Linked DNA regions of Homo sapiens: region 2 is linked to region 1. The links come from fine-mapping of genetic effects on gene expression. A gene starts in region 1. The other region holds a variant in brackets. All regions are shown on one strand. Distances are from middle to middle.

Evidence for each region. PIP is the estimated chance that this variant, and not a neighbour inherited with it, causes the effect.
Region 2: its variant is the best candidate, but not a certain one, in a credible set for the expression of GNB1 in skeletal muscle (FUSION, PIP 0.71).

The regions. Positions count from the first base shown.
Region 1 is chr1:1,888,115-1,893,114 of GRCh38, reverse strand. It overlaps GNB1 (G protein subunit beta 1), which reads left to right and starts at 2,028. Exons shown (of 12, transcript NM_002074.5): 1 at 2,028-2,295. GNB1-DT (GNB1 divergent transcript) reads right to left here and starts at 1,935. Exons shown (of 2, transcript NR_168264.1): 1 at 1,732-1,935; 2 at 389-1,215. RefSeq lists silencers at 1,244-1,493, 1,554-1,653, 1,774-1,963, 2,524-2,713 and an enhancer at 4,016-4,515.
Region 2 is chr1:1,931,795-1,937,309 of GRCh38, reverse strand. All of the region lies in intron 25 of CFAP74 (cilia and flagella associated protein 74), which reads left to right. Among named protein-coding and RNA genes, the nearest start is that of TMEM52, 15 kb to the right of the region's middle. The variant G/C (reference allele first, on the strand shown) is at 2,410.

The DNA of each region.
Region 1 (5,000 bases):
TTTGAGACCAGCCTGGGCAACACAGGGAGACCCCCATCTCAAAAAGAAAGAAAGAAAGAAAAAAAAACCCAAAATAAATAAATAAAATAAAAATTAAAAAAATTTCACTGGGAATTCACTCCTTGCTCAACTGTGCTAGGCAGGCAGGCGCCCCTGTGGGGGCGGGGCCTCGGTGGTCCAGCGGAGGTCAGAGGCCACGCAGGGTGAGGAGCGGGTAGCATATGGTGGGGTGGAAGCAAGGATGAGAGACTGGTTACACAGGAGATAATCAGAGCCAGGTTCCTCACTCCCAAAGCAGGAGGCCCCTCATTCCGAACAGGTTGAGCCCTGTAGTGTTGGCCTGGCATCAGAGTAAACACGTGGTGCCCAAGAAAAACAGACAAACACGCCCATGAAACTGTGTGTATACATATGCGTGTGGGCATGTACATAGATGTGTTCCCTTGCTCCGCCAGCTGCAATGACACCCCAGTAGCAATGAGCACATCCGGAGCCAGATCCCGGGCTCTGCATGACATTCTCCCACAATGAACCAGGCTGCAGCAGAAATAGCTGGGTTCAGGCTGGGGCAGGGAGAATACAACAGGGCCCTGGAGCATCTCGTGCCAGAAAGAAAGGGCTCCAGAAATGATGCGGACAGGTGAAGTGGGAGGGAGAGAGAAGGGTGGCAAGGCGTGGGTTCCCTGTCTGGTGGAGGCTCCCCTAGGTAGGGGGAAGCGCGTGGCACGGAGGGCAGGTGGCGGACGCATCTGGAAGCCGCACTTACTGTGTGTCCACTTTCTCACACAAGCACCATGCACACAAAACAAGAAGGAAAACGTCAGCTGAGAGAGGCGGGTGGTGTCCCAGGGTGTGGAGAGAGTAGAAGGTGGGAAATAGGTGTTGGAGGTGGCATGGCCCCTTGAGGTTGTGGCCCTGGTTGAGGGGAGGCCCAGTGGATGAGGTTGGGTCTCTCTCCCCTTCAGCTGTGCTGGTGCAGGCCTGGAGGAAAACGGACGCCAGGTTTGGTGTGGAAGGGGAGCTCGGAGGCGATGAAGGCCCAGGCAGGTGGAAGGTGGTGGTTGAGGACCGGGGAGCAGGGCGCTGGCTGGGGAGAGGCAGAGTGAAGAAGCCGAGGGTGAGGGGCAGCCGGAACTCAGCTGGAAAGACAGCAGGAGGCGGTGGGCGCAGGGGCGGGTTCCATGGACGTTCTGGAGGCTTCTGAGGACACCAAGCCTGGAAGCCAGGACATGTGGCCTTCTTGACTTCGTTCCCCTTCCTCACCTGGAGGTCTCCAGTCCCCGCTGTCCACTGCTCAGCGGCATGGGAGGAGTCCGCGGCCTTACCCCGACACTCCCGCCCACCGGCCCCCGCCCCTGCCAGGCGGCCCTGCTCGCAGCAGCGCGAGGAGCCACGGGGTGCTGCCCTCCTCCGCAGCCCGAGGCCCACTTCACACGCACTGAGCCCAAGCGCGAGTCTCTGCCCGTCAGCCGCGTCTGAGCTCGCCGCAGTCCCTGCTTGAGAGGCCGGGGGGCACCTGCGCCTGCCCGGGACCCTGACCTGCTAGCGGGGCCTGTTGCCTCCTCTGCAGGAAGCGATCTCGCCCGCGGTGCCCCCACCCGCCCCGTCCCCGGAGGGACCGCCCCCGCCCGCGGCCTTCCCGCCCCTGCCCTGTCGCTTGAGTGCCCCCCGCCCGCCGTTACCCCACCCCCGCCCCTGGAGGAGCCCCCGCCCACGGTTACCCAACCTTACCCTGTCCCCGGAGGGCTCCACGCCCGCGTTCCCCCCGCCCCATCCCAACTCCGAGGGTCCACTGCCCCGGTCCCCATCCCGCCCGGTCCCCGCAGGGCCGGGCCGCCGGGGGTCTCCCGGGGCAGCGGTACCCGAAGGCAGCAGCACGGCCCCTTTAAGCCGCTCGGACACGCGCTCGGGGCCCGATGCGGTTTGGACGCGCACAGGCGTGCGCGTGCCCGTCGGGCCTGGCGAGCGCGCGCGACGCGCGGCGTGCGTGGTGACGCGAGCGCGTGGGGTTTTCCGAGGCTGCGGGCAGGGGCCCGCCGCGCCCATCCCGATGGCTGGAGGCGTCTGAGGGGCGGACGGAGGCGGCGGCGGCGGCGGCGGGAGCGGGAGCGGGCGGCGAGTGGGGAGCGGGGCCGGGAGTGGAGCAGCCGCCGCGGCGGGACTGGACCGAGCCTCGCCGGCGCGCACCTGCCCGCAGCGCCCGCGGAGCGCGCAGCGCGGCCCGAGCGCGACGACCTGCCGAGCGGCGGCCGAGGCGGCGGTGTGGGCGCGTCAGGCCGCGACGAGGGCGCTGAGGTGAGCGCGGCAGCCCCCAGCCCCGGACCCGGGTCCTGTTCGTCCACCCGCCCGCCCTGGGGGCGCCCGCCCCGCCCCCACCCCACCCGCCGGTCGGGGCCGCGTCTTCCTGCCCCGCCCGGGTGCGGCGGGCGGCGTCCGAAGGGGGGGCCGGGGGCTGGGGTCCGAGGTTCGGGGTGCAGGGTCGGGGTCGAGGGCGGGGTCTAGGGAGAGGAGCCGGGGTCCCAGGCCCAAGGCTGGGGGCCGAGTTTCGGCACCGGGGTGCGGGGTTGTGTGCGCCGCGGGCGCTTCCCGTGGCGGCGGCCGGGGCCCCGGGGGCGCGGGTCGGGCGGGGCCGGGCCCTGCGTGGGGAGCCGGACGTGGCTCTCGGGCCCGCGGCGCGAGAACAAAGGCCGGGCGGGCCTGCAGGCGGGGCGGTGTCGGCGGCCGGAGCCCCCGCGCGGGCCGCCTATCGGGGTGACTTTGAGGGCCGGGCGGCCGCGGGGCGCGAGCGTGGGGAAGGGGAACAATGAAATGGGGAAGCCGGGCCGCGCGCCGCGGTCGGAGTAGGGATTTAAAGCGGAAGCCGGGCGCGGCGTCGGGAAATGGGAAAATAACGGTTTCGGCCCTTTTCGCTGTGTCGAGCCGCTGAGGCAGTCGCGCTGTGGCCTCGCCCTTCTCCTGCCGAGGCCCGGGTCTGTCCGGCGCTGGCGCCCCGCGCGTGTCGACTCGAGGGTTGCGCGGACCCCGGCCCGGCCCCGCGAATGAATGGGCCCGGTGGCCGCGCCAAGATGGCGCTCCCACCGCTGCCTTTGTGGGGCGGCCGCCGCCGCGCCGAGTTTCGGGGCCCGGTTTGCGATATTCCGAAGGCCCGAAGGTGGGGGAGAGGACAGGAAATAGCACAAAGGCTGGGTGTCTTCCTCTTGCCTGGATCGGCTTTTCGGCTGGAAGCGGGGTGGGGGTGGGGAGTGGGGAGATCTGTTGAAAATTCCACAGGGCTGTCGGCTGAGGCTTTTGACTTTTAAGAACCTGCTATATTTTTTCTTGTGAATCGATAGTTGATTCAAATGATATTTTAACATTTCTTGTGTCCGTTAAATTACATGGTTAGCATGCAGAAGCAGTATCAGCTTTTGTTTGCTTAATTCATCTTCATGGAAGCCTTTTTTTTTTTTTTTTTTAAGAGATGGGATCTCTTTGTAAAAGAGATCCTGTTAACCAGGCTGGTCTCGAACTCTGGGGCTCAAGCGATCCTCCCGCCTCAGCCTCCCAAAGTGCTGGGATTAGCGGCCTTAGCCACCGTGCCCAGCCTGTCTTCATGGAAGCTTTTTCTTAAGATTGTGAAATGGGCTCCTGAAGGAAAACGCCGATGTTAAAATTTGTGTTTTGAAAAGGGAGTTGGTGTACATTTACAGTTAGGGTGTACAGTACTGGACTTATGGGTAAATAGTGTAGAAATGGTAACCTATGGTTTTCTTTTGGGGAGCATTGGTTCATTGTATTTTCATGTTGCTATCTATCTGATAACATTAGTCTCAAATAGTATTAGGTGATTAAGCAGTTGCTGGTGAGATTATTAATTAAGAAAATATGAAGATTATTTTTCATGATTAGCAAATGGACGTATTAGTTTTGTGGAAAGTTTCAGTGAACTGCATACTGAATAAGGTCTTTGGAGCAAGCATTGTTATTGATAAGGTTTTTGCATAAGTTATTTTCTAATCTGAAGTGATAGTCTTTTGGGAGAGGGAGGAGCTCTTTATTGAAAGTAAGGTTTTAATTTTCATGCTATTGACATGCATAGTCTATTCTGGATTCTTTGGGAAGGTATGTATATCAAGAAAGTGGATAGGCGGTTCCTTCTTTGCTAACGCTGGGTTCGAGGCTGGGGATGGAGGTGGTGCCACTGACATGGAGACAGGTCTGAGAGCCTCCCCAGGGTAGGACTGAATGGTGGGTTTTGTCTTGGTTTATGCTAAGGCAGAACTTTCTTTACTTTTTGAGATGGAGTTTCGCTCTTGTTGCCCAGGCTGGAGTGCAGTGGCGCGATCTCGGCTCATTGCAACCTCCGCGCCCCCGGGTTCAAGTGATTCTCTTGCCTCAGCCTCCCGAGTAGCTGGGATTACAGCTACCACCACCACACCCGGCTAATTTTTTGTATTTTTAGTAGAGATAGGGTTTCACCATGTTGGCCAAGCTGGTCTCCAACTCCAGACCTCAGGTGATTCACCCGCCTTGATCTGCCAAAGTGCTGGGATTACGAGCGTGAGCCACCGCGCCCAGCCGGTAAGGCAGAACTTTCTAACGATTAGAGCTGCGCAGAAATGAACTGCAACTGCAGGGTCCAGAGGCTGATGCTGTCAACCCTGGGGGAAGGCTGGACTGCAGGTGTTGGGCGGTGGTCCCAGGTTACGAGCATTTGGTTTCATCAACACTGAAAGTGCTCCCCCCGCCCGCCTTTTTTTTTTTTTTTGAGATTGAGAGTTTGGAAAACCAGTTAAGTTCTGAGGTGCCTGTGCCCCCTCCCAGTTAAGTGCGCACTGCCCAGGCCCAGTGTGAGGATGACATTTTATCTTCTGCGGGAACCTTTCAAGATGAGTCTTATAGAGGAAACTGTTCCAACATGAAATTTCAGCTCAGAATTGACTTTCTCAAAAGAGCACATCCACTGGCCAAAAGCTATTTCTCTCGCGTAATCTGAATTTATGACAGAACCATAGTTATCT
Region 2 (5,515 bases), 44 kb before region 1:
TGGGTTCATGGGCAGCAGCACCTCTGGGCTAGTCAGACAGCCAGACCACTTCAAAAGCCACGCTGGCTCCTTCCCCAGGGCGCTAACGCCCCGTCGCCTCTCCCTCAGCCGCCTTTGGTGCCCAGTGCTTTGCACGTTCCATCCGTAATCACGGCCATGTTGCAGTTTCCAACCCTGTATCACTTTCTGAACTCTCTGAGGCACACGTGGAGTCCTTAGGCTGCTGCCTTTGATTCCTTCCTAACACGCTTCCCAGTTTGCTTCGCCGTTTACACAAATTCCACTCCTCATTCTCTCTCGTCTCATAACAATGTCACCTGTGATTCGACCATTTTCTACTGCTCATTTTCAAGTGCAATTATTTGTTTCTGAACTTTTACATTTTAATTTTTTTTTTTTTTTTGAGACAGGGTCTTGCTCTGTCACCCAGGCTTGAATGCAAGGGGTGCAATCACGGCTCACTGCAGCCTCCACCTCCCGGGTTCAAGCAATCCTCCCACCTCAGCCTCCTGAGTGTGGCTAGGACTACAGGAACACGCCACCATGCCTGGCTAACTTTTATATTTTTTGTAGAGATGGGGTCTCACTATGTTGCCCAAGCTGGTCTTGAATTCATAGCCTCAAGCGATCCTCCCGCTTCAGCCTCCCAACGTGCTGGGATGACAGGCGTGAGCCACTGTGCGCGGCTCTCCTCCTCACTCTCAGAAGGGAGCCCAGTTCAGAGAGCTTTTCTTTTTTCTTTTTTTTCTTTTTTTGTTATTTTTCTTGAGATGGACTCTCGCTCTCTCGCCAGGCTGGAGTGCAGTGGCATGATCTCGGCTCACTGCAACCTTCGCTTCCCGGGTTCAAGCAATTCTCCTGCCTCAGCCTCCCGAGTAGCTGGGACTATAGGTGTGCACCACCACGCCCAGCTAATTTTTGTATTTTTAGTAGAGACAGGGTTTCACCATGTTAGACAGGATGGTCTCGATCTCTTGACCTTGTGGTCCACCCGCCTCAGCCTCCCAAAGTGCTGGGATTACAGATGTGAGCCACCGCACCCGGCCGCAGATCAGAGAGCTTTTCTTTTCTTTTTTTCTTTTTTTTTTTTTTGAGACGGAGCATCGCTCTTGTTGCCCAGGCTGGAGTGCAATGGCGCAATCTCGGCTCACCACAACCTCTGCCTCCCAGGTTCAAGCGATTCTCCTGCCTCAGCCTCCTGAGTAGCTGGGATTACAGGCATACGCCACCACGCCCAGATAATTTTGTATTTTTAGTAGTGACAGGGTTTCTCCACGTTGGTCAGGCTGGTTTCAAACTCCTGACCTCAGGTGATCTGCCCGCCTCAGCCTCCCAAAGTGCTGGGATTACAGGCATGAGCCACTACACCTGACCTCTCAGAGAGCTTTTCTAACTCCATGGCTCCAGAGCCCCCTGCAGTTCGTGTGTGTGTGTGTGTGTGTAGTGCTGAAAAAAAAAAGGTCCCAACTTTCTTAGCTCTGCGTCCTCTGCTCTCTTCTTCCCTTCCATTTTCAGATAACCCACAAACTCAGCCAACATCATGTACCCTCCACCCAAAATACAGATCTTAGACTTTTATCCTACTTGCCTCTGATTTCTCTTTGTTGTTACAGAAACAAACATTCTCCCTCAAGTCGGAGCTGGCTTTGTTCTCCCTCCCTCCCCAGAGCCCGTCACTGTCAGGAATGCCAGGGGTCACACTTTCATTACATACCTGTGTACCTATAACCTAACACACACACGTACACACGTGTATACCTACAACCTAACAGGTACACACGTGTGTACCTACAACCTAACCCACGTGCACACATGTGTACCTACAACCTAGCGCGCACACACCTGTGTACCTACAACCTAACACCCACGTACACACGTGTGTACCTACAACCTAACACCCACACATACAGACGTGTGTACCTATAACCTAACACCCACATACACACGTGTGTACCTACAACCTAACACCCACGTACACACCTGTGTACCTACAACCTAACACCCACGTATACACCTGTGTACCTACAACCTAACACCCACATACACACGTGTGTACTTACAGCCTAACACCCACGTACACACGTGTGTACCTACAACACCCACGTACACGTGTGTACCCACAACCTAACACCCACGTACACACGTGTGTACCTACAACCTAACACCCACGTACACACGTGTGTACCTACAACCTAACACCCACGTACACACCTGTGTACCCACAACCTAACACCCACGTACACACGTGTGTACCCACAGCCTAACACCCACGTACACACGTGTGTACCCACAGCAACACACATACACACGTGTGTACCTACAACCTAACACCCACGTACACACGTGTACCTACAACCTAACACCCACGTACACACCTGTGTACCTACAACCTAACACCCACGTACACAC[G/C]TGTGTACCTACAACCTAACACCCACGCACACACGTGTGTACCTACAACCTAACACCCACGTACACACGTACCTACAACGTAACACCCACATACACACGTGTGTACCTACAACCTAACACCCACGTACACACGTGTGTACCTACAACCTAACACCCACGTACACACGTGTGTACCTACAGCCTAACACCCACGTACACACCTGTGTACCTACAGCCTAACACCCACGTACACACGTGTGTACCTACAGCCTAACACCCACGTACACACGTGTGTACCTACAACCTAACACACACACATACACACGTGTACCTATAACCTAACACCCACGTACACACGTGTGTACCTACAACCTAACACCCACGTATACACCTGTGTACCTACAACCTAACACCCACGTATACACCTGTGTACCTACAACCTAACACACATACACACCTGTGTACCTACAACCTAATACACACATGTGTACCTACAACACACATGTACACACGTGTGTACCTACAACCTAACACACACGTACACATGTGTGTACCTACAACCTAACACCCACGTATACACCTGTGTACCTACAACCTAACACCCACGTGTACACCTGTGTACCTACAACCTAACACCCACGTATACACCTGTGTACCTACAGCCTAACACACGTACACACGTGTGTACCTATACCCTAACACTCACACATACACACACTTCTACACTTGCACAGATGTAGGGTGACCACCATGCTGCTGTACCCAGTACTGAGGGGCTTCTCAGGCCGCAGGACTTTGAGTGCTGAAACTTGGAGAGCCCCATGCAGACCGGGACCTCATGCCGGTGGCCTCAGACCCCTGCTGCTGGTCTGGATTTTGCTTGTCTCCCCTCAGCCTGGGTATTTTTGTGACTGATCCTCATGGGCACCACCAAAGGCTCCATGTTGGACCCATCAGGTTTGAGGCCTGCGGGCTGTCAGAGCAGCACCTCGTGGGAAGCTTCTAGTTCTAAACGCAGATATTAGAAAAGAGGGTGTGAAAATCAACCATCTAAGCTTCCTTTTCAAGAATTAGGAAAAGAACACAGTAAATTAAACCCAAAGAGAGTAGAAGAAAGACATAAAAAAGGTAAAAGTGGAAGTCAACGAAATAGAAATGCAATATTCAACAGAGAAAAACAACAAACTAAAAGTCTTTCTTGTACAATTTAATAAAATTCATTACCCCCAGCAAGACCAATGAGGATAAAAAGAGAAAACACAAACCATCAATATCAGGAGCGAAAGGGAACATCACCACAGACCCTAACAAATATCAAAGCGATAAGAAGAGAACATGATGAACATCTTTACACCAGGGAACCTGACAATTTTGAGGAAATGGACAAATTCCTCAAAATACACAATGGACACAGGAAAAATATAGAAATACCTGAATAGTTGGGCCGGGTGCGGTGGCTCACGCCTGTAATCCCAGCACTTTGGGAGGCCGAGGCGGGCGGATCACCTGAGGTCAGGAGTTTGAGACCAGCCTGGCCAACATGGTGAAACCCTGTCTCTACTAAAAATGCAAAAATTAGCCAGGTAAGGTGCTGCACACCTGTAATCCCAGCTACTCTCCTGAAGCAGGAGAGTCGCTTGAACCCAGGAGGCAGAGCTTGCAGTGAGCCGAGATTGCACCACTGCACTAAGCCTGGGCGACAGAGCGAGACTCCATTTCAAAAAAAAAAAAAAAAAGGTCAGGCACGGTGGCTCCCGCATGTAATCCCAGCACTTTGGGAGGCCGAGGTGCGCAGATCACGAGGTCAGGAGATCAAGACCATCCTGCCTAACACGTTGAAACCCCGTCTCTACTAAAAATACAAAAAAATTAGCCGGGCATGGTGGCGGGCGCCTATAGTCCCAGCTACTCGGGAGGCTGAGGCAGGAGAATGGCGTGAACCCTGGAGATGGAGCTTGCAGTGAGCCGAGATCGCACCACTGCACTCCAGCCTGGGTGACAGAGCAAGACCCCATCTCAAAAAAAAAAAAGGTCGGGCACAGTGTCTCACACCTGTAATCCCAACACTTGAGGAGGCCGAGGCGGGCAGATCACGAGGTCAGGAGATCGAGACCATCCTGGCTAACACAGTGAAACACCATCGCTACTAAAAATACAAAAAATTAGCCAGGTGTGGTGGTGGGTGCCTGTAGTCCCAGCTACTTGGGAGACTGAGGCAGGAGAATCATTGAACCCGGGAGGCGGAGGTTGCAGTGAGCCGAGATCATGCCACTGCTCTCCAGCCTGGGCAACAGAGCGAGATTCTGTCTCAAAAAAAAAAAGAAAAAAAGAAAGAAAAAAATTGACTACTAATAATAATCAATAATATCTCCACTCAAAAATAATTTTAGTGAGTGCTGGGCGCCACGGCTGTAATCCCAGCACTTTGGGAAGCTGAAACAGGAGGATCACTTGAGTCCAGGAATTTGAGACCAGCCTGGGCAACACCCCATCACTACATTTTTCTTTTCTTTTTTTTTTTTTTTGAGACAGAGTCTCGCTCTATCACCCAGGCTGGAGTGCGGTGGCGCGATCTCGGCTCACTGCAAGCTCCGCCTCCTGGGTTCACGCCATTCTCCTGCCTCAGCCTCCCAAATAGCTGGGACTACAGGTGCCCACCACCACGCCTGGCTAATTTTTGTGTATTTTTAGTAGAGACGGGGTTTCACCATGTTAGCCAGGATGGTCTCGATCTCCTGACCTCGTGATCTGCCCGCCTCAGCCTCCCAAAGTGCTGGGATTACAGGCGTGAGCCACCGCGCCCGGCCTACATTTTTCTAAGTTTTTTGTTTTTTGTTTTTTGTTTTTTTTTTTTTGAGGCGAGAGTCTCACTCTGTCACCCAGACTGGAGTGCAGTGGGGCGATCTCAGCTCACCGCAACCTCTACCTCCTAGGTTCAAGCAATTCTCCTGCCTCAGCCTCCCGAGTAGCTGGGATTACAGGCACCGGCCACCACGCCCAGCTAACTTTTGCATTTTTTTCAGTAGAGATTGGGTTTCACCGTGTTGGCCAGGCTGGTCTTGAACTCCTGACCTCAGGTAATCCACCCGCCTCGGTCTCCCAAAGTGCTGGGATTATAGGCGTGAGT